Homo sapiens: one gene and its partners. The protein of the gene in region 3 interacts with the protein of the main gene of each other region in a pairwise test. Each region holds a gene or a part of one and is shown on either strand. Other genes may lie near its edges. The genes, in order: NME1, DNAAF6, PID1 and CPSF7.

Region 1 (6,151 bases), on a different chromosome or scaffold from region 3:
CTCTACTAAAAATACAAAAATTAGCTGGGCATCAGGGTGGGTGCCTGTAATCCCAGCTATTCGGCAGGCTGAGACATAAGAATTGCTTGAACCAGCCAGGTGCGGTGGCTCATACCTGTAATCCTAGCATTTTGGGAGGCTGAGGCGGGCGGATCACCTGAGGTCAGGAGTTCGAGACAGCCTGACCAATATGATGAAACCCCGTCTCTACTAAAAATACAAAAATTAGCCAGGCGTGGTGGCATGCGCCTGTAATCCCAGCTACTCGGGAGGCTGAGACAGGAGAATCGCTTGAACTGGGGAGGTGGAGGTTGCAGTGACCGAGATCGCATCATTGCACTCCAGCCTGTGCAACAAGAGCAAAACTCCATCTCCAAAAAAAAAAAAAAAAAAGAATTGCTTTTGAACCCAGGAGGCGGAGGTTTCAGTGAGCCGATATTGCACCACACTGCAGCCTGGGCAACAGAGGGAGGGAGACTCTGTCTCAAAAAAAAAAAAAGAATTCCAATTCTCAAATCAAATAGGGGATAGTATGTTTTCTAAAAGGGAATCAATTTTGGACCCTTCTAGTGCATTTTAAAATTTAGTTTGACTTGCAATTTACTTCCTATGTGATATTTTAGAAAAACTGCTTTAGGGCTGGCACAGTGACTCGCCTGTCATCCCAGCACTTTGGGAGGCTCCGTCTCCAAAAAAAAAGAAAAAAAAGAAAAGAAAAACTGCTTTAATGTAAAAGAGGGTAGACTGATGTTCATGCTGAGAGGAGAATATGGTGTCCAAGGTCAAGGAGCTGGCATCTAATGAAGGTTTTCTTGCTGTATCATCCCATGACAGAATGGAATAGCAAGAGAGTGCAAGAGTGAGAGAGAGCAAGAGGGGGCTGATGTTGATTTTATAACAAACCCACTCCTGAGATAAGACATTAATCTGTTCATGAGGGTGAAGCCCTCATGACCTAAACACCTCCCATTAGGCCTCACCTCCCAACATTGTTGCATCGAGGATTAAATTTCCAACATACGAACTTTGGGGGACACATTCAGATCACAGCAGAAGGTAACATGAGATGGATGTGTTGTTGATCAGGCATTTACCATATGCTGGGCACATATGTTTTCTGATTTAGTCTTCATGCCAGCCTTGAGAAGTACTTACTCCTGTTCTCGTGGTTGTTAGTGATGAGCAACCTAAGGCTTGGAGAGGTTCAGTGATGTGCCTGATAGCATACAGTGATGCCACTGGAATTTTAACTTGAGTCTCTCTGACCCCTGAGTGCAGATACTTTCTCCTTTACATTGAATTTCCTATTAAGGATATATGGGTTTGGTGAAGAATGGACGGAAGGATAGCTGCCATGACTCTAAAGGGGCATTTAAATCTGGTGTGGAGGCAGGAAGCAAGGGAGAACTTGAGGTTCCCAACCCCCAAGCCCTTAAAAAAAGCCCGTGATCTGTTTTGCAGACTAAAGATAATCAGTTAGGGCCTGGCGTGGTGGCTCACACCTGTAATCCCAGCATTTTGGGAGGTCAAGGTGGGTGGATCATCTGAGGTCAGGAGATGGAGACCAGCCTGGCCAACGTGGTGAAACCCCGTCTCTACTAAAAATACAAAATTTAGCTGGGTGTGATGGCGCATGCCTGTAGTCCCAGCTACCAGGGAGGCTGAGGCGAGAGGATGGCTTGAACTCGGGAGGTGGAGGTTGCAGTGAGCGGAGATCGAGCCACTGCACTCCAGCCTGGGTAACAGAGCAAGACCCTGTCTCAAAAAAAGATAATTAGCCGGGTGTAGTGGTGCACACCTGTAGTCCTAGCTACTGAGAATCTGAGGCAAGAGGATTGCTTGAGCCTGGGAGTTTGAGGCCGCAGTGAGCTATGATCATGCCATTGCACTCCAGCCTGGGTGACAGAAAGACCCTGTCTCAAAACAAACAACAAAACCAACAAAAAGATAATTGGAACCAATTAATAGAATTAAAAAAGTATTCTGATAAGGGAAGGTCACCTCAGGGTCTGTTAGACTTCCACAACAAAAGTCTTCCATTTGGATAGGAAAGGACAGGGCGAGGGTTGGATCCCTACCACGGAGTGATTATATGGCCATGTAATTTTACTTTGGCAAGTGATGATAACTGGTGGCTGAATGATGGGGCTTCTGGGCAGCCAGTCTCCACATCTGTGTGTGTCTCTGATGTGTGTGATATGCGTCATACAGTGCAGTACCACAGAGCTGGAAAAACCATGGGACCCTGTTAGATTTTAACAAGCGTATATGCAGTACAAGAGAGAACACAGCCAAACTGAGTTGAAACTGCTAAGCAGATGGTTTGTTCTCTAGCTAACTTGATTCGTTCCCACATATTAGCCTTGCAGTATGAGAGGTTCTAATTCATTTTTCAGCAAAATTATTTATTACTAGATGTCATGCACTTTTGGGTGATTTGCAGATACCTTTGGTAATCACATGGTCATCACTGCTGGGCTTTTATCCTCTGAATAAACGTGAAGCATCCCTGGGTAATGGCCTGGTTTAGTTTGCTGCTCATTAAATGCCAAGACTTGCTTCCTGGTGTCCTTCTAACATTTTATTTGGGGTTTGCTCTGGGAATGGAAATTTATTGTATTGTTGATTTTCCTGTCTAAAATGAGATAGTTGAGGGCCAGGCATGGTGGGTCACGCCTGTAAGCCCAGCACTTTGGGAGGCGGAGGCTGGAGGATCACTTGAGTCCAGGAGTTTGAGACCAGCCTGGGCAACATAGTGAGACCCTATCTCTACAAATAATTTTTTAAAATTAGCCAGGTATGGCTGGGCGCGGTGGCTTACGCCCGTAGTCCCGGCCCTTTGGGAGGCCAAGGCAGGCAGATCACCTGCGGTCACCTGAGACCAGCCTGGCCAACATGGCGAAACCCTGTTTCTACTAAAAATACAAAAATTGGCCAGGCATGATGGCCGCCACCTGTAATCCCAGCTACTTGGGAGGCTGAGGCAGGAGAATCACTTGAACCCAGGAGGTGGAGGTTGCAGTAAGTCAGGATCACGCCACTGCACTCCAGCCTGGGTGACAGAGGGAGACTCTGTCTCAAAATAAATAAATAAATAAATAAAATTAGCCAAGTCTGGTAGTGTGTGTCTACAGTCCTACCTACTCGGGAGTCTGAGGCAGGAGGATCACTTGAGCCCAGGAGTTTGATTTTTTTTTAAATGAGATAGCTGGATTTAATTTTAATGTTCTGTGGTTTTATTATCAGTCAGTGCCAATAGGGAGACAACTGATATAAAATTGGAGAAGTACATTTAGTCCTGTCACTGCTCCCTTCCAGTGTGGAGAATGAATTGGGTTATAACAGAATCAGTGAGCCCAACCGCTCATGTTTTACATAGCAGGGTGGATGAGGGGAAATTAAATGGATTATATGTCCTTAGATGGTTTGGGGGTTATTCTCATTCTCTGTCCTGTTGAATAGGCTTCCGAAGATCTTCTCAAGGAACACTACGTTGACCTGAAGGACCGTCCATTCTTTGCCGGCCTGGTGAAATACATGCACTCAGGGCCGGTAGTTGCCATGGTGAGTGTGCCTGTGTGGGATACTCCAAGTATGCATTGCTTGTCATCTGTGCTAGGCTCTCTTCTAGACACTGGGGATACAGCCATGAATGAGACCAAATAGATACCTGTTTTCATATACCAGCTAATGGTTAGTGATAGGCTTCAGAAATGAAATATGCCCAGAAATGAATAGGAGTAGCAAATGATCACTTTAGATTGGGTGATCAAAGAACGCAATTTTTAAGCTGTGATCTGAATGACAAGAAGCAGCGATCTGAATGACAAGAAGCAGCCAGCCATGTACAGAATCACAGTGAAAAACATTTCCAGCCAAGCAAACAGCATGTGCAAAGGTCCCAGGGTGGGAATGAGCTTGGCTTTTTGAAGTACGGGAGGAGAGTTGAAATGCCCGAAGCCTGATGGGTGGGAGGGAAGTTGGGAGGTGAAGAGTTCAGAGGCATGGGCAGGGGCCTTCTCTCTTAGGGGTGTGTTGACCATATACTTCCTGAGTGCTGGGAAGCTATGGGACACTTCACACTTGGCATTTCTTTTTTTTTTTTTTTTTGAGACGGAGTCTTGCTCTGTTGCCCAGGCTGGAGTGCAGTGGTGCCATCTCGTCTCACCGCAAGCTCCACCTCCCGGGTTCACGCCATTCTCCTGCCTTAGCCTCCTGAGTAGCTGGGACTACAGGCGCCCGCCACCACGCCCAGCTAATCTTTTCGTATTTTTAGTAGAGACAGGGTTTCACCATGTTAGCCAGGATGGTCTCGATCTCCTGACCTCGTGATCCACTCCCCTCAGCCTCCCAAAGGGCTGGGATTACAGGCGTGAGCCACTGCGCCCTGCCCACACTTGGCATTTTAAGGAGGCTGCTCTGGTTGCTGTATGGAGAATACATTGTAGAAAGGCAAGCATGAGGGCAGGGAGATCAGGATCCTCAGTGCTGGAATAAGTGGATATACTCTATAAACATTTGTTCAGTGAATGAATATAATCTTAAGGGGCCTTTTTATTTTTCCTTTTTTGAATTAATAGTTGCCAGATTTTCTGCTGTGATTGGTTTTCTTCTTTGACCATATCTTCTTCTGTCCTTGGAGGTCTGGGAGGGGCTGAATGTGGTGAAGACGGGCCGAGTCATGCTCGGGGAGACCAACCCTGCAGACTCCAAGCCTGGGACCATCCGTGGAGACTTCTGCATACAAGTTGGCAGGTGAGATTTTGGTATTTTTCCCCCTTTTCCAAAATCTGATTTAGTTGCCACAAGGATTTGGGTTTCCGAGGCTGGAGGTAGACATGATACCATATGCAGGTTGATTTTATCGGAGTTTATTGTTTTCCTCCCTCTTAAGTTGGCGTTTGGCTTTGGTTGTTAACATCACTTAGTCGTACCTCTGTTACACGAAGTGTAGAACCTGGTACAACACACTTTGCTGGCCAGTCTTTCCTGAAGGCTCTCACTGTTTGCACCAGCGTGGCCGGGAGGGCTGGATGTGGGGAGGGCATTTTTCAGCCTTAAGTGAATGGCCATTGTAGGCTTTTTCTTTTAACATGGTCTAATGTCCATGGAGCTTCAGCTTTTATGCTGCTGTGGCTGTAGATTTCTGGCAATGGGCGCATTTTAATCCTTCTGGTCTTGGTCATGTGACTATCTCTTTCTCCACCCAGGAACATTATACATGGCAGTGATTCTGTGGAGAGTGCAGAGAAGGAGATCGGCTTGTGGTTTCACCCTGAGGAACTGGTAGATTACACGAGCTGTGCTCAGAACTGGATCTATGAATGACAGGAGGGCAGACCACATTGCTTTTCACATCCATTTCCCCTCCTTCCCATGGGCAGAGGACCAGGCTGTAGGAAATCTAGTTATTTACAGGAACTTCATCATAATTTGGAGGGAAGCTCTTGGAGCTGTGAGTTCTCCCTGTACAGTGTTACCATCCCCGACCATCTGATTAAAATGCTTCCTCCCAGCATAGGATTCATTGAGTTGGTTACTTCATATTGTTGCATTGCTTTTTTTTCCTTCTTTTCATGTACACTGAATAACCTGACCTAATAGAGAGTGTAAATACTATAAAAATGATTTATTTTGAGGTCTCACATACACACAGGCATTCTTTGCCTGCCCTTCTTAACCCCCGCATCCCTTCCACTCTTGGCACTGAGCTATTCAACAGGCATCTATGGAGCATGTGCTACGTGGCCAAGACTGGACTAGGTGCAGAGGATTCATCAGAAATGAAAGAAAACATGAGGGCTGGGTGTGCTGGCTTGTGCTTGTGATACCAGCTACTTGGGAGGCTGAGATGGGAGACCAGCCTGGGTAACATAGCAAGACCCTGTCTCACTAAAAAAAAAAAAAGAAAAATTAGGCTGGGTACGATGGCTCATGCCTTTAATCCCAGCTATTCAGGAGGCTGAGGAGGAGAATCGCTAGAGGCCAGAAGTTCAAGTCCAGGGTGGGCAACATAGCAAGACGCTGTCTTTACAAAAAAAAAAAAAAAAAATTAGCTCTGGTGCTGTGCACCTCTAGTCCTAGCTATTGGGAAGGCATAGGCAGGAGGATTGTGCCCAGGAGTCCAAGGCTGCAGTGAACCATGATCATG
Region 2 (7,041 bases), on a different chromosome or scaffold from region 3:
TAAGAAAGGAGGAAAAAAAATAGAAGCAAAGTTCCTGATCTCAAAAAATAAAATTTTAACACAAGAATTACTTGTTAATGTTGCTAAAATGAATCAAATTCCACACTCTGGGTTAGGCCCAGATTTTTCAACAAGGTCATTATCAGGATGAAATAAGCAAAAGTAAGGTGGTATCATTGATATTGTTGGTATTGCCACAACTGTTATACAGAAACAGTGACCTGGTAAAGGATGCTCTCCAACATTCGGTAGCGTCATTCAGATAAGAAAGCAAAGTAACATTTTAGATGTCTTTCTTAGTGTTTTTAATCAGAAGTCAGATCCCAAAATTAAGAAAATCCCTTTTTAAGTCCCACATTGTAAGCTGAGTCATTACGAGAAATACAGAAATAAGAGATAAGACAGATGCGGGGAAGGAGATACTTCATTCTGATTGCCTGTCAATTCATCATAAGTTAATAACCAATCAGTTGGCATGCATGGGACGGAACTAGGATGGAAGAAAATCCAGTCCAATCCAATTGGGAAGTTTTAATAGGGATAAAAATAGAAATTGTGTATTGTGTCATATGATTCCATTATGTTTATTTGTAAATCTCATCCAAATGTGTAAACTTAGTTTATTTTGTACAAGTTAACAATTTTAAACTGTCTATCCCATTGTTACCCTAGTACGTGAAACATAGCAACCACGATTTTTAAAGAGTTTACAACCTTGCCTACAATATTATGTAAATAATAGTCAGTCAATTTAGCTACAATGGTTGTATAGAAAATGAAGAAGGGGAGGAGAGGCTTACCACTAGTTCACTGCAACAACCTGTTGAGGAGTCCTTTTTTGACAACCCTAAAAATATATCTTCAGTTCCCACCTGCTGTCTGAATATAATCTCATACCTGAAAAAAAATCAATGATTATAGGGACTCAGATGAAAGAGCAATTTCCTGTCACAGAAAAGAAAACTAGTAACTTATGAGGATATGCTATTAGGTAAAATAAAAGGACTAAACAAATAAAGTGCTTGCAGGTCTTCAGGCATATAATAGAACATAAAGGAAAAGAAGTCTAGAAATGTGGTCAAAATAAACACTGAAAGGCAGGATTGTTATTATTTTCTAAAATAAAGCTTTAACTGTTTCAGAGCTAGACAAATAAAATAGATTGAGGGAACTTGTAATAAGATTCTAATAAGATTAAAAGCAGAAGAAAAAAAAGGAAAGTCTGTTCCTGAAAAACAATAGCTCAGAAAAATACTGAGTCCATAACCTAGGGATTGATAGAAACCTTCCTCTGCCAAGTTTAAACCACAGAGCAGAGGAGAAAATTCAGGTTTAGTACTGTTTCTGTCATTAACTGTGGACCTTGGTCAAGTCACAAACTCATGGGGTCTCAGTTTCTACATTTGTATGATTTATGGGAGGGAGGGGTGAGTTTGAACTGAATGATCTCCACGGCTAAAATTCTACAATAGAAACACTGGTAATGTAGTCAGCACAGCTACACCATAGTGCTTAGAATCTAGTCTTACAGAATTCTGAGTGTAATGAAAGGTTTTCCTGATATTTCACCCCACACATGACAATTCACAAATCATTCCTCCCTCCAAATTTGGGCCTCCAGGAATACAATGGTTTATAGAAGCACCCACCACAAGGTACCCCATCTCTTCAGATAGAATGAAACAAATATTTACAAATTATTATTATTATTATTATTATTATTATTATTATGCTTAATGCTACCTTAATGAAGAAATTGTAGATCTCTGGATAGTAAGACTAAAGGACTTGATTGAACTTCTGACCATTTGCCAATAGGAATGCCCAAAAATAAAAAAGGGATTTCTCTGAGTTTGAACATGGCTAACAATAAGCAGCTATTTGCTATGGGGCACTTTTCTCTTAATAGGCTATAACATCTACCAATTATTTATGAAGGTGAAGCCAGGTTAAAACAAACAGAGGATTGATCTATATGTTCATTGCTCCTAATGGATTTGCTCAAGCTCCTGCTCTTATCCTGAGCTCCAGACGCAATTTTCCAACTGTCTACTACAAAGGTTTGCCTGGATGTCCCAAAGACAACTCAAAGTGTACATATCAAAAACCAGCTAGTCATGGTGGCTCTCAACTGTAATCTAGTGCTTAGGGAGGCTGAGGCAGGAAGATTGCTTGAGTCCAGGAGTTTGAGACCAGCCTGGGCAGCACGGTTAGACGCAGTCTTCACAAAAATAAAGTGTGCACCTGTAGTCCCAGCTACTTGGGAGAGTAAGGTGGGAGAATTGCTTGAGCCCGGGAGGTTGAGGCTGCAGTGAACAATGGGCGGGGCCGGGGGGGCGGTGGTTGGCGAAGAAAAAAAACAAATTTGGTTGGGCACTGTGGCTCAGGCCTGTAATCCCAGCACTTTGGGAGGCTGAGGCAGGTGGACTGCTTGAGGCCAGGAGTTCAGGACCAGCCTGGCCAACTTGGTGAAACCTCGTCTCTACAAAAAACACAAAAAACATTAGCCAGGCCTGGTGGCATGCACCTGTAGTCTCAGCTACTTGTGAGGCTGAGGCAGGAGAATCGCTTGAACCCGGAAGGCAGAGGTTGCAGTGAGCCGAGATCACACCACTGCACTCCAGCCTGAGCGACAGAGCAAGACTCTGTCTCAGAAAAAAGGAAGAAAGAAAGAAAGAAAGAAAAAGAAAGAAAGAAAGAAAGAAAGAAAGAAAGAAAGAAAGAAAGAAAGAAAGAAAGGGAGAAAGAAAGAAAACAAAAACAAACTCACTGCTTCTTCTTAACCTATAATTCCTATCAAAGTTAATGGCATTATCATTTCCTCAGTCACCCAAGCTAATAACTTCAGCATCATCTTTGACGCTCTCCTCTCATCCATTTTATCTAACCAAATACCAACTCTTCATCCAAAACTCACTCAAATAAAGACCCTCATACTTCTCCCCAAGGCCAGTGCCTTAGCTCAGCTCCTTGTTATTCTTTTACTTGGCCACTTGTGATTCTTCTTTTTTGAACTGCCTGTTCATGTTCTTTACCTATTTTCCTCTGCATCCACTGAGAAATGTTGAAATGTATTTTCATAAGGTAGAAGATGAAGATTTTTAAAATCTTATAAAGCAATTTTCCTCATAATAACCTGAAGTTATTATTCATTTAAAGCTTTCATGGATGTTCTATCTACCTAACATCAAACATCAGGATGAAAAGGGAAAAATTACTCAAATTTGAAGTTTGCTGCATATGGATATTTGACATTTGTTAGACAATATGACAAATAAGTGACTTAATTATTACTTTTCATATGATACGTGGACACTATATAAACATAACTTCAAATTTACTCTCTTCGTTCTCTAAGAAATGTTTTAAAATCTCCTTTGATTTTTTATGAGGTTTATGGTCTTGACATTGTTTATTTGAAAGCTGGATACTTCTTTCTAGTTAATTGTCTGCAGTCTCCCACTGCTTCTGTTTTCAGAACTTATGTAGAAGGCAGAAGCATGGAGTTTTTGTTTATTTGCTTGTTTTATACTGGACAATTTTGGCTGGGCGCAGTGGCTCATGCCTGTAATCTTAGCACTTTGGGAGGCTGAGGCGGGCGGATTGCCTGAGGTCAGGAGTTCCAGACCAGCCTGGCCAACATGGTGAAACCCCGTCTCTACTAAAAATACAAAAATTAGCTGGGCGTGGTGGCAGGTGCCTGTAGTTCCAGCTACATGGGAGGCTGAGGCAGGAGAATTGCTTGAACCCAGGAGGGGCGCAGGTTGCAGTGAGCAGAGATTGTGCCACTGCACTCCAGCCTGGGCGACAGAGCAAGACTCTGTCTAAAAAAAAAAAAAAATACTGGATAGTTTTGTATTCAGTATTAGAAAAGTTGTCAGATCACTTGCCATAGAAGTCTTTAAGAATTTATATAGTACATTATAATTTAGTAAGTGTTGGCTTTATTTTTCCTGCTATTCTAAATAGTCAATCCAAATTTTATTTCAAAATACACATATGTAAAGCTTAGTCTATTTGACCAATAATTTAATCTATGTATATAAATATATTTTAAGGTTCTTAAAAGTATGAGTGCTTTTAAAATCAGAATAAAAGGCTTTTTATAATAATTCTAAATTTCATATTTACAACTTGATTGTATTGAAAAGGCTACAAAGCAAGTCTTGAACCCTGCTTGCAAAATACACTGAACACTAAATATAATCTTAGAATATCTAGTAAACAAGTCTGGGTAATAATTGATAATTGGAGAGAGAACATAGCCTTTTACCGAAATTGTGGAACATTGAGTAATTAAAAGCAAGTGCTTGACAAATAAACATGGCATTGTAATTTAGTTTGTATGAATGCTTGCAATTTAATGGGCTGGCTTTCTCCAACTGCTAGTTCCACATTATACAACAAATTGACATTAAATATAAATTTATAATGGAAATGACTATATTTTTCATTTTTGCTAGATAGTAACTGAAAGGAAGGTGTTATGCTTTATTATTTGTTTCTGCTCTAGAAGGAAAAAAATAATCAATTACACATGCCTTCCGTGTGTCACTGTAGTTTTATCTTTTATGTGGTATGTTACTTTATGAATCTTGTAAAAAGTAAAATGTTATCAGATGACACAGCTAACTTAAACTCCTAAAGACATTCCTGGCTTCATTTGACTTACTCTGGGATTTCTCTAACATCCCACATATCATCATATTCTGCTCCTTCTGGAATCTCTTCTGAATTCCAGATGTCCTCATTATTTTCCTCGCTGGTTTCAGGGATGACTGTGAAGAAAGGGAAGATAAAGCTGAAGCTCATGCTTTTTTCCTTCTCTAAATTGCTCCTGTTCTTCTTCACACTCAGTTTGGGTTCATTGAAATAAAACATTATTTGTAATCGCTAGCTTTTTTTTTTGATCAAAACAAACTAAATTAGTAACTACTGACTAAATGTTTCTATCAATACAGAACCAATACATTGTAGAATTTTAATAACAACTGTAGAGAATTTGGCAAAAACATAAACAAAAAGAAGAAAATAATCTACAATCCAACTGCCTGGAGATAATCAATGTTAGTATTCTGTTGTGTATCATTCCAGTCTCTCTCTCTCTCTCTCTCCATATACATATGCAAAGAAATATTACACATTTTTCCAGAAACATAAATAGGATTATATTTAAAAATATTTTTATATAAAAGAAAAAATTACAACTACAATCAATCTGATGTGGAGAGAAATGTCTTATCTTGCATTGTTTTTACTATATAAAAACGCTTTGATATCTTTTCCATGCAAGCATGACATAATTCTCAATAATATCAATTAAAGAAACTGAAAGCAGTGGATACAATGATCATTTTTTAGTCCAGCATTTTCCTCATGCAGAGCTGAGCATGAGGTTGGGTTTCTGCATGTCATCTTTAAATGTTTAAAAATGGATAGGCTCCAGTAGGCATGCAAAAACCCAGCTCACATTTGTTTTAACTATTGTAGCATCCGGTGGAGACCTGCATTAGGTGCAGAGCACTGCTTTGAGTCATTTTAAGCATTCCCAGAAATGCACCCGATTGTTAGGTTTTCAATTCTGGCAATTCTTTTGAAATGATCAGCTTCTATCTAGCACGGGCTTTGTAAAGCCTAACTACAGATTTATATATAACATTTTACATATGAATCATTGCCTTCAGAATTTAAAGATTATTAGACCTACATTATCAGAAATACAGGCAGCACAGAAATACATGAAATGTGAATTAGACTGCCATGGAGCGAATATCTCTTGGGTAAGGCAAATAGCCTCTTGAGTATGTATAGCAATAATAACTGAAATTTTAAAACCATCCTTAGACCTCATTTTAGCCATTATTTTAAACATTTGTCCAGATTAATCTTTTGCAATTAACTAAATTGATGAATGAAATTCACTTCCTCTCCCTTCCTATCCTCTGGTTAATGGTGATCATGACCAACAGAATTAGAGCCTTTTATATTTTTAAAGATTTGTAAAATGTTCAACTCTGTAAAAATGTATAGCTCAAAATGCTGGGGAAATGTAAAAATATTATTTAGCCTTATTTATTGGACTTTTTTTTATAAGTAAACTCAAAGATGTTAATGTATAAGCCTCTTAATGTAAGATAAAATTGTGTAGTTATTTGTTTTATTGTCTTCTCCAAAAGTCTATTAGCTCAATCAGAACAGGGACTTTTTCTGTTTTGATCTGCATTGTAGTATCAGAGATGGTCATACTGCCTGATACAATAGGTTCTCAATAAATATTTATTAAACAATTCAATGAATGAATTCCATGAAATTGCTAGAATATAGGAAGGTAGAAGGTAAAGAAGCTAAGCATCTTGGTAAATAGACCTTAAAAAATAAAAAATGATCTAACCACACGTGACTTTCTTGGTCTTCTATCTCAGAAAATATGCAAGGAATGTGGATAATTCAAGGCAAATATATTTCCATTATTAGAAAAACTATTTACCTGCAGTGGTAGAGTAAAAACAGCATCTTTATATGTAAATGGCTATTCATCATTTCCATGATTATTTTAGTTCATCTTTTTTCTATTTAAAAATTATTTATTCATTTCTCCATTTTTAATGAACAAATAAAAATTGTATATATTTATGATATACCATATGATGTTCTGAAATATGTATACACAGTGGATGACTAACTCAAGCTGATTAACATATGGATTACCTCACCTACTTATCATTTACTTGTGATGAGAATACTTAAAATCTACTATCTTAGCAATTTCCAAGTATACAATACATTGTTATTTAGTTCATCTTAATAAATACTAGTATTAGTACTTATTACTCTCCCTATAATTTCTCTACCAAGGAAAAGATTATATTGATCTATATTGCTTTGTTAAATAACTTACCTTTGAGCTCTTCTATTTGGGGTGGTCCAATATTCCCAGGACCCATGGCTCCAATAGTAGATAAACCATTTGTCTGAGGGAGGAGAAAAAGTTCAATATTCTGTAATTAATACTTGTATAACCTATATGACTAGTGATACTTT
Region 3 (6,856 bases):
CTATATTTTTACTTTGGAAGCCTTTATATTTGTTATTGATTCCATGAAGGGCATTGCTCAAAAAACATAGGCTCCATGGCCACCTGTCTTGCTTGTTTAATGGGGCCATTCTGAGATATCATAGCCTGGAGGAGACATTCTTTAACCAGTCCCATCAGAAAAAAAATCACTCAGTGTTTACCTTCCAGGATTTCAGTCTAGGTTCTTCAAAGACATACACGAGATTTTTGTAAATAGCAATCATTTGCAACATGTTCTGGAAGACCCCGCACTGAAACAAACCCACCATACTATAGAACTATTTCAACTATTGCCACTTCACCATCTCAGGGGCATGCAAAAATTAAAAACAAATTGAGCATTTAGAAAATAAAACAAGATTTTTAAACGCAATCCAGGAATAGGTTATTTATGACCCAGTTTAAATATATTTTTTGATAGAACTATTTGATCTAATTTGTTCTTCATGTTTTTATTACTTGAAAAAGGACAGACACAAAGTATGAAACTCCTCAGCTTTATTAATGCAAACATATTTTTATTAAAGAATGAATGCATTTATGCTAAAGAATAGCTTACATATGTTGTAAAGCAACAAGCATATCTTCAAGAAGTGAGTCCTCCTCAATATGACTCCATGCTTATTCTACATGCCTGAAAACTGGGCCCACACACAGGGGCACACGTACACGCACACAAACGCAGATACGGACACACAGATATGCAGACCGAAATGCTGACACCATCGCTCTCTAGATTGGATTAGCTCTCATTTAAGGCTTCTTAGGTGCCGCAGTGCCCCTAATATTACCAGGATTGAAAACAGACTTTTAGGAAGGAGCAGCATTACTTCGAAAAGTAGTCATCTGCTCTTGTCCTCCAATGTGTGTATTTTAACAAATACAATTTCATTCTATGTTGACTCTGTGTTTATAATATTTAAAGAACCATGAAATTAAGAAATCTCAGGATTGTTTTAGTGAGAACTTCCCATTCAAAATAAAAAAAAAGGGCAATTCTGACCCTAAGATATCATCAATTTTATGATAACGCAATAAGATTTCCCTTTAGGTTAAGATGACATGGGTCTCTAGACAAGCCAAGTTTATCTAACTCATTCTGTATCTAAGTGCAATGCTGAGTGATGGGGGCAAGGTTTCCTCGGTGATACCAAATCAGATTTGAAGCTTGCCATCAAGGATGCATCAGACAGGACCATTAATTAAATAAGTTACCATAAATCTCAGCTGGATAAAAGGAGAGTTGACATAGAGTGTGTTCACTTGCTGATCACTTATTCCTCTTTGCCAAGGCTTCTGTTGTTGGGGTTGTTGTTTTAAACTCCTGGTTTGTTTGACTGTTTATTTTATTTGCTTGATTGTTTTCTTCCTTTTGGTGTCCTGCAACATATGCTGAGATTTCATCCCTCTAAGGATGTTAGAAGGGGAAAGAGGGTGGACAGGGCAGCAGGAGGGAAAGGGAAGGGGTCATTAGTAATTGCAAGTATTCTAAGAAAATAGATGAAGTGAATACAATAAGAGGGTACTACTTGGTATATTTATGTAAATAAAAGCATTATCTGTAACTGTGAATTAACTGCCAACTATCAGGTTGTTAGTTGTAAAGCTCAATAAAGGCTGTGCTGATTTGCATACAGAGGAGGGCATCTGCCGTGGGAGAGGAACAGAGGGCCCTCCCGAGATGTTCCTTCCTCCCTGCGGCCAGCGTCCCCATCAGCACCCTGCCCACCCCACTAGAGATCCCATAGGTGCCCCTAACATTCTTGTGGAATTTCATAAGGCAGATCGGAATGGCCCATCCAATAACAGCTGCAGAGTATTTGCCTGAGCGTGGTGAAAACTGGCATGGAGCTCTCCCACAGAGAGGCATTGGGAAATGAGAAAAATAAGAGAGCCTAGAACCTTCCTCCCCATCCACACTCCCACCCTCCTCACAGTCACAGCAGCAGCAGGTTTCAATGTAACGTAATTACTTTAATGATACATTTCTTTAGATTTAGAATTGCTCTTCTGAATTTAAAAACCTTGGTCAGCCAATAGTTTGGCAGTCTTTTCATCCCAAATTTGAAACGTTGCTTACTCATCTATTCCCTTGAACTCCGTGACCAATGCTGCCTTTGCTGAAGCGTCTCAAGTTCATTCAGCCATCATCGGATTCCAATTCCTGGGAAACCTCTTCGGAGGAGCTGTTGCTGTGGATCCGCCCGTCGCTCTTCATACTGTGGAAAGTCTTCCTGAAGGCCTCCATCATGGCGTGGGCCAGTTTCTTGGCCTCGAGCTTGCTCTCGCACTCCACGGCGTGGCAGTCCATCTGGTAGGACAGGTCATCATTGATCTCCCTGTAGACCCAGGCGAAGATGTTGGGGCTCACGTTGTGGTCGGCGGTGCAGTAGGCGATGCGGGCCACCTGGAAGGTATCCATGTGCACTGTGGCCTCCCCTTTGTGGTCGAGATGATGGAGCCAAACTTGGAATGGCCGGATTTCCAGGAGGGCATTGGCCGGAAAGACATCCTCTCGGGCTAGCGTGTGCTTCTTCCAGAGCTCAATGACTGGCTTTTCTGTGCAGCCTGACAAAAACTGCATGCCAGTGGTGGAGACTTTGCCCAGGTAGGTAACCTGCAGATGCAAGAGAGGAAGAAAAGGGAGGCATCAGCAGAAGGCTCTTTGTTCTGATAGACTGAATGAGTAGCTGTTCCACACAGTCATGGTGTCACATTGGGAAGGTGAAGACACTTCTTTCTTGCTCCCTGAAAGAATAACTCATCAAAATTTCTACCTTTTCTCTCTAATGAGTTGCCTACTTGGCAAATGTATTGAAATTATTTGAATAGAGTTGGATTTTAAAATCTAATTTCTAGAGAACTACTCTCCCTCTCCTTACTCCTTTTTTAAACCCCAATTAAAACGAAGAGTATGATCTTTTACATAATTTGGCATTCCTTTAACATCATAAAGTCACTCAAAGTTTATTTTCGGCCAAACACACACAGAATTGAATAATAGGAAGGAATCAAAAGGACACTGAGTTGGAAAAACAAAATCTTTATTAAACTTATCTCCTAGCCTGGGTCTCTTTCCAAATCTCTCAATGTTTGATTTCACTTAGGCTGCCTGCTTCTAATGCCAAGGACGCAAAAACTGTTCTCTTGAAATTATGGCCTAAAGCATGATAGTTTTCCTTCCCAAGATAATTTTTAAAAATAACAGCAGTGCCCAGTTCTTTTTTAACCTAAACTGTTTTTGAACTGATGAGCATCTGTTGATCTGATAATAAATGAAAGATCTACAGAAGAATCAAGAGTAGAATGCTGGCTTATCACCTAGCTAGGTAGGCAGTATGAAAACTAAGAAAAATAATTCCAAACGATTCAAATACTGTCTTTTTAAAAGCGTGTTTATAATATGCCAAGAAGGGATTTTCATCCTTTCATTGTTTTATTCATTCCACAAAATGCACAGAATTACTATTATTGGGGCATAGGCATTATGGAAAGGCATAAAACTTAAGAGATCATCTAAGAAATAATATGAAATAGTATATACTTACATTTAAAATTAGTGACACAAATAGAAATACTACGAATGCGAGGAGAGAAAGACCAGAAGAGGGTCCGTGGAAACCGTGAGAACTGAGAGGGGACATTTGGTCAGAATGATTCCAAACAATGGTTATATTTAGTGGGACAATACAGGCCACATATAAAAAATTAAAACACAGAAGTTAAGGACTATTGTATCTTTGTGACAAGAGTAGTCCCTTTAAGAAAATAACTTTTTAATAAAGATGTGTAAGTGTGATACATTCCAGAAGTATTTATTGGGAACCTCTTATACACAATGGCAATATAACACATAGGCATGGGGATTGCTATGAAACTGGGGAGGGCCGAATATCCACGGGAAAGAAATAATTGAATACTCATTCAGAGCACAGTCTTTGAGGCAGGTGAAGTTGAGGTTTAAATCCTAGCTCCACAGTTCACCAGGACAAAACTCTCACCCTTGGCACCTGCACAGCTATGACTCTGATGTAAGGCAGGCCGTGGAAAGGGCAGGAAGGGGAACAGCAAAGTACTGTGAGTGTTCAGTGGAGGAGGCAGTGGCATACTGATGACAGAAGGCCTCAGGAAGAGGCATTGGATTTCAAAACATTGGCCTCAGACTACATAGGAGCCCAGCAAGTCAAGGTGCTAAAAAGGAGGAGGGAAACAGTAAAGGCAAGTAGTAGAGAAAGTCTCAATCAGCTTGGACAAAGAGGCTGTGCTAACCTGAGCACACGTAAAGCGGTAGCCTAAGACAGCCCTGGAGCAGAAGCCGTGTAAGAGGTCCACGACCTCTGGATAAAAATAGGCTGACCTTTGCAGGATCGCCCCACATGTGGTCTGAGGAATCGGGGCGTCGTTGCTCCTCTGGAATGCCACTGAAGGGCCAAGGTCCAAGGAGTGCCTGGATGTGATAGAGCCTGTGAACTCAGACTTTCCTGATGCCAGGAAGAAAGGTGGATGGGGAGGCCTGACTGATAGCAGAGACACAGCCAGCGGGCAAGGGTGGCCTGGATTAGGAACAGAGGCAGTGGGAAAGGACAGGAGGAGGCAGAGGGAATAATATTGCAGGACAAAAACTAACAATACAGGGTGAGTATCCCTTAGATAAAATGCTTGGGACCAGAAGTATTTCAAATGTCAGCTATTTTCAGATGTTGGAATACTTGCATATACATAATGAGATATCTTGGGGAGATAACCTAAGTTTGAACTGAAATTTATTTATGATTATGATTCATATATACCTTATACACATAGCCATTAGTTTTACCCAATATTTTTAATCACTTTATGCATCAAAGTTCGTGTAAATTGAGCCATCAGAAAGCAAACGTGTCACTATCTCAGCCACTCATGTGGACAATCTGTGATCGTTTGGCAGCAAATAAATTGTGGTGTTTACGCACCAAATAAATTGTGCATAAATAGAAAATGTCAACATATTTAAAAAGGCAGCCCATCCAATGGGAGAAAATATTTGCAAGTCATATATGTAATAAGTAATTAATATCTGGAATACATACAGAACACCTAAAAGTCAACAACAAAAAGTCAAAAAACCCAACTTAAAAATGGGCAAAGGCATCCACAGTGGACTGAATAAAGAAAATGTGGTACATATACACCATGTATAAATACTACGCAGCCATGAAAAGAACAAAATCACGTCCTTTGCGACAACATGGACATAGCTGGAGGCCACTGTCTGAAGTGAATTCAGGAACAGAAAACCAAATGCCACATGTTCTCAGCATCCAATCCAAACTATGCGCTAATGAGCGTATTATGAGCTGTTGCCCAAACAATTTCATACGAAGTTACCCTAGCCATCATCCTATTATCCTATTATCAGTTCTACTAATAAGTGGCTATTATCAGTTCTACTAATAAGCGGCTCACTCAATTTATATACACTTATCACAACACAAGAACCCCTCTGACTACTCCTACCACTTGCTTACTCACTTATAAGTAGGAGTAAACATTGAGAACACATGGACATAAAGATGGGAACAACAGACACTGGGGACCACCAGGAGGGGGAGGGTTGCGGGGGTGAGGGTTGAAAACTACCTACCAAGCATCATGCTCACTACCTGGGCAACGGGACCATTAACACACCAAACCTCGGCAACACGCAATTTACCCATGTAACAAACCTGCACTTGTACCCCTGGACCTAAAAGTTGAAAAAAAGCTTTAAAAAAATAAAGTTCCTGTATGTCAATCCCTGGGGAAAAAAAAAATGGGCAATGGAAATTAATAGATATTTTTTGAAGCCAAAAAAAAAAAAAAACATGAAAACATGCTACCATCCTTAGAAAAATGCAAACCAAAACTACAGTTAAATACCACTTCGCACCTGTTAGGATGGCGGCTATCAAAAAAGCAGAAAATAACAAGTGTTGGCAAGGATGAAGAAAAATTGGAATTCATGTATCCTGTCGGTGGGAATTTAAAACAGTACAATTTCTATACCATGTAGAAAACAGCGTGGCGGTTCTCCAAAAAATTCAAAGTAGAGGCCGGGCGCAGTGGCTCACGCTTGTAATCCCAGCACTTTGGAAGGAGAGGCGGGCGGAACACGAGGTCAGGAGTTCGAGACCAGCCTGATTAACATGATGAAACTCCGTCTCTACTAAAAATACAGAAATTAGCCAGGCATGATGGTGTGCACCTGTAATCCCACCTACTCAGAAGGCTGAGGCAGGAGAATCGCTTGAAACCGGGAGGCAGAGGTTGCAGTGAGCTGAGATCACATCACTGCACTCCAGCCTGGGTGACAGAGTGACACTCCGTCTCAAAAAAAAAAAAAAACAATTAAAAGTAGAATTACTATATGACTCTGTAGTTCCACTTCTGGGTATATACCCCAAATAATTGAAAGATGTATATCAAAGAGATATTGTACACATGTTTATAGCAGCACTATTTACAATAGCTAAAAAGTAGAAGAAATCCAAGTGTCCGTTGATAGATGAATGAATAAACAAAATACAGTATATATGTATAATGTATACTGGAATATTATTCAGCCTTAAAAAGGAAGCAAATTCTGACAGATACTACAACATGGATGAATTCTGATGACATTATGCTAAGTAAAATACACCAGCCACAAAAAGACAAGTACTGTATGATTCTATTTGTATGAAGTATTTAGAGTAGTTAACATCATAGAAACAGACCAATTAGAATTGTGGTTGCCGGGGGATTGGGGGAGGGACGAATGAGGAGTTACTGTTCAATGGGTGCAGAGTTTCAGCTTTGCAAGATGAAGACAGTTCTGG
Region 4 (3,788 bases), on a different chromosome or scaffold from region 3:
ATTATTTTCATTTTGTAGGTGAAAAAGACCAGGGTTACACTGCTTGTCCATATTTAGATAAACAGGTGGTAAACTAGGCACTACCAGTCAGATCTTCTAACTCCTATCAAAGGATTCTTCCCTTCCTGAACTTGATACTGGAATTTAACTGCACAAGGTAGAACATTTGCTCTGAAAATAAGTCTTAGGAATCTTGAAGGGTAAAGGATAACTTAGAAGTTTTCTTTAACCAGCTGTTTAGATGGCCAAGGAAAAAAGCTAAACCTTAAGGGATGCCTCCAAAGGTTTGCATTAGAGGTCTCTTAGGAGGCTTTCCACAGTCAACTAAAGCCATGTATCACTGCCTGACATGCAATCCTAGCTAAGAACTTGGCATTTCACCATCATTCGAGTGTCTACATCAGCCCATGCCCATGCCCCAGACACCTCAACAAATCTATTCAATGCAGAATCCATAAAACAGCTCACACCCCATTTATTATTTAAAAATATTTTGTTACAAAAGGAAAAAAATACAATGCAGTATAAAAGATTGACAGCGTCATCAAGTTTATTACACAATTTTCAACCTATCAGAAAGACAAACAAATCACCGACAACAGGGGGACGGGACCTTGGCCTTTTTGAGGGATGGGTGTTTTTTTTCCTTTTGCTATCAGGAAATAAAACTAAAAATGGTGTCATTGAGTAAAAACAAAACAAATGGGGAGAAAAAAATTCTCCGGGTAAACGGCATTTCTGGTATTCTATATATATTTTTCCTTAAACTGTCACCTTTTCTCTACATTTTAAAAGACACCCGGAGTTGCTCTCAATAAGCACATCACTTAACACTTGGCCAGTTGGGTGGGGTGCCATGTTCTGAAGTGGAGGTGGGGATGGGGTTGGGGGACAGGGGAAAAAAAGCTCCAACCTGTAGCCTCTGTCCCAAGGGAATGTGCCTCTCCAATCCTGCGGGGGACTCCCTCAGTGACTGAGGGCTATATGAGAAACGTGCTGGGAACAGAGGACGGGTTTAGTCCAATTCAGTCTCTCTCCTCTGACCCAGAAGGGTCTCTAGTGACCCTATGTCTCACATGCCAAGTCTCATCTCACATGCCACGTCTCATGTTAGGTGTCAGATGCCCTGTAGATGCATGCAGAAGTAGCATCACCCCATGGGTACCGCAGGACCTCGCTGCTGCCTCCTCCTTCAGCAGCAACCACATTACAATTTGGATGTTATGGAAAAGCAATTCCATTTGCCTGTAGAGAAAATGGCCCCCAGAATGCTGGTCCTTAGAACTCTGAGCTGAGTTCATTCAAGTCGGGCTCTGTTTCTTCTGGCTCCTCATCTGAGGCAGGAAGTATCTCCAGGCAGAGTGAGAGGAGCTATTAAGTCAACAGTCAAAAGGTGAAAAGACACCAAATTTGTGACTTTACCTGCCTACTAGTGCCAGGTTATCCCACAATAAGTAAAAGTATGTACCTGGGGGATGTAAGCCCATGCTTACATCAAACCTGAAAAAAGAAAAGCCTATGGAAGTAGGCCATATCCTGCCCAACTTGCTTCTTTCCCCATTCCTCCTGGTTACTTCACAAGGGTTCTTCATTGCTGAGGTCCCAATGTCCCCATCTCCCAATGGGCAGTACCTTCCTCTAAAACAAGGAAGTAGCCTTCTGGGGGAAGGGCTCCATGTGTTAAATGGAAAAGCCCCAGGGAAAGGGAACAACTAAGAGCTGGTTATTGCAAGAGGTACCCAAGCACTAAGCAGCAGAGGGTGGTAATTGGCTCTGCCAGGCTTCCCAGCAGCAAGCAACCTCATAGGCCTTCTCTGCTTAGGAGGGGCAAGTCCACTGAGAAGGCTGGGCAGCGCAGAGTTGAAAGAGTTCAGCCCTCTGGGAGGTCAAAGAAATAAACCGTCAATACGTGAGAGGGAAAGCAGGAACAGAAGTAGCTTTTCATAAGGTAATTTCTGTTCTCATGGTCCCTCCTCAAAGGGCTGGAAAGGTAAAGGAGTTAAACAAAGAAGTGGTATGTTAGCAAGGGGTTTGGACCCTCTTGGCCCCATTAAATCTAGTGCTGAGGGCAGGACCCTGGGCATATTTTGGCACACCCAGTCACTCTCCTAGATCCTGCATGGAGGATCTATTTTCTTTGGGAAGGAAGTCTTCCCATCAACCTCACCATTGAACGGCTCCCGGAGAATCAGAAACTCATACGTTTTCTTGGACAAAGCACCATTCTCTATGGAGACCAGGGGCCTGGACATGTTTTCTTCCTGTCTGCCACCCCTCCCAATCACACGAAGTCTTTAGGTTCTTTCCCCTGGCAAACAGGAGGTGTGGGATTGGGAGGACTGCCAAGCAGTCTTCAATCCTGTGGGGCAGAGGGTATTCCCTGGGTGTCTGGAGGGAGTTAGGGGTTTGGAGGAAAGGGAAGGGGGTGGGGCGGCCTCCGTCCTTTAGTCCTGATCAAGGTGAGGAGATGCAAGTCCATTAAAAAAACATTTGCTTCCAACCAGACTCCTGCAATGAGAACATCAGAAGAAAAGAAAGAAAACACAAGTTAGAGGTTACTTTCTGAATGACAGGGGCTTATATAAAACACACATATTCTAACGCTACAACATAAGAAGTAAGGAATGCAGACAGAGAATGCAAGTCTGGGAAAACAAAGCAGGACTGTCTGACACTAGAAGTGGTGAGGAATGGCTGGAGGAGAAGCTACTGTGAGTAGAGAGAAAAAAAGCAGTGACATCCACTATAAAGATTCGGTGAAAAAACAGAACAAAATGAGGTCTCTGAACGTTCGACTGAAAAGGAGACTTTGGCTGCAAAAGTATGGAAACTGTGACATATTTCAAGAAAAGTTGCTAAAAGGGAATAAGGTGAGTTTAAATATAGGTTAAGAAGTCTATTCTGTGCAAGTCATAGCTTACCTTAAGGGGAGGGGGAAAAATCTGGAAATGGGAGGTTTAGTGGTAAGAAAACAAGTATGTACACAACCAAATCCATTAATCCCCAAACACCCAAGAGGCCCTAGCAGGCAGGATGCACATACACAGGAAACTCTTAAATCCTTCTTTTTTCTTTTTAAAGGAGTCCTGGCTAAAAGTGCCTTTATGAGTATGTGTGTACACAAACACAGCCCCAGAGGTTTTCCAAGTGTACTAAAACTCGAGATTTTAAGTCTTTCCTCGCATGACAGCCATAGGTGAGGAACCAGGAAACATACTAACACTAAGCAGGAGTCACGTGGCCAGGCCAGAACAGAAAGCAGAGCATGGAAGAAACCTAAATGCAGTTAAGAAGTTTTACCCAAAAGGGTCTATTAAGCCACCTGTCACATGGCCACCAAACAAAGTTCCTACTATACTCAGCACCTGTTCCAATGCTGCAATACCCATCTGCGGGTGGTGGTATGGTCAGTCTGAGCATATTAAACAGAATTAATAGCCAAAGGGAAAATGAGGAATTAGAATTTCTCCTAATGCCCAAACTGGCAACACAGCCTACGCACAAATGTTTACCTTTTATATAACTACTTCTGTAAAGTGGCCTTATAAAACCTAGAGGAGACATCTACGTCCTCCCTGATCCTTGTACACACCGAAATGACACTATTTTCAGCTTGGGTCCTCAGAATCTATATGGCCTAAGCCTTCCTGGCCTGTCTAAACACCTACGCAGGCTGGTATTTGTCCCATTTTCTCTAAGGGAAAACTGAAGCCCTCAGTGCACTCAATTACATACCATTAGGGCTTCTGAATCTTTGAATTCGATCCAAATTGAAGAGAAAGCTCAGT

What was found.
Region 1: the proteins of PID1 (region 3) and NME1 interact in binary tests that used the Homo sapiens proteins (3 or more experiments, as listed by UniProt).
Region 2: the proteins of PID1 (region 3) and DNAAF6 interact in binary tests that used the Homo sapiens proteins (3 or more experiments, as listed by UniProt).
Region 4: the proteins of PID1 (region 3) and CPSF7 interact in binary tests that used the Homo sapiens proteins (3 or more experiments, as listed by UniProt).

What each region holds. Positions count from the first base shown.
Region 1 is NC_000017.11:51,156,518-51,162,668, forward strand, and holds the end of NME1 (nucleoside diphosphate kinase A), read left to right. Parts: intron 1-3,462; coding exon 3,463-3,564; intron 3,565-4,642; coding exon 4,643-4,755; intron 4,756-5,210; coding exon 5,211-5,328; 3' UTR 5,329-5,651; downstream 5,652-6,151. Other genes in the region: NME1-NME2 protein, read left to right, coding at 3,463-3,564, 4,643-4,755. UniProt on the Homo sapiens protein: Major role in the synthesis of nucleoside triphosphates other than ATP. The ATP gamma phosphate is transferred to the NDP beta phosphate via a ping-pong mechanism, using a phosphorylated active-site intermediate.
Region 2 is NC_000023.11:107,216,601-107,223,641, reverse strand, and holds part of DNAAF6 (dynein axonemal assembly factor 6), read right to left. Parts: intron 6,972-7,041; coding exon 6,899-6,971; intron 4,779-6,898; coding exon 4,673-4,778; intron 898-4,672; coding exon 801-897; intron 1-800. UniProt on the Homo sapiens protein: Plays a role in cytoplasmic pre-assembly of axonemal dynein.
Region 3 is NC_000002.12:229,023,472-229,030,327, forward strand, and holds the end of PID1 (PTB-containing, cubilin and LRP1-interacting protein), read right to left. Parts: intron 2,638-6,856; coding exon 2,161-2,637; 3' UTR 502-2,160; downstream 1-501. UniProt on the Homo sapiens protein: Increases proliferation of preadipocytes without affecting adipocytic differentiation.
Region 4 is NC_000011.10:61,402,197-61,405,984, forward strand, and holds the end of CPSF7 (cleavage and polyadenylation specificity factor subunit 7), read right to left. Parts: intron 2,509-3,788; 3' UTR 533-2,508; downstream 1-532.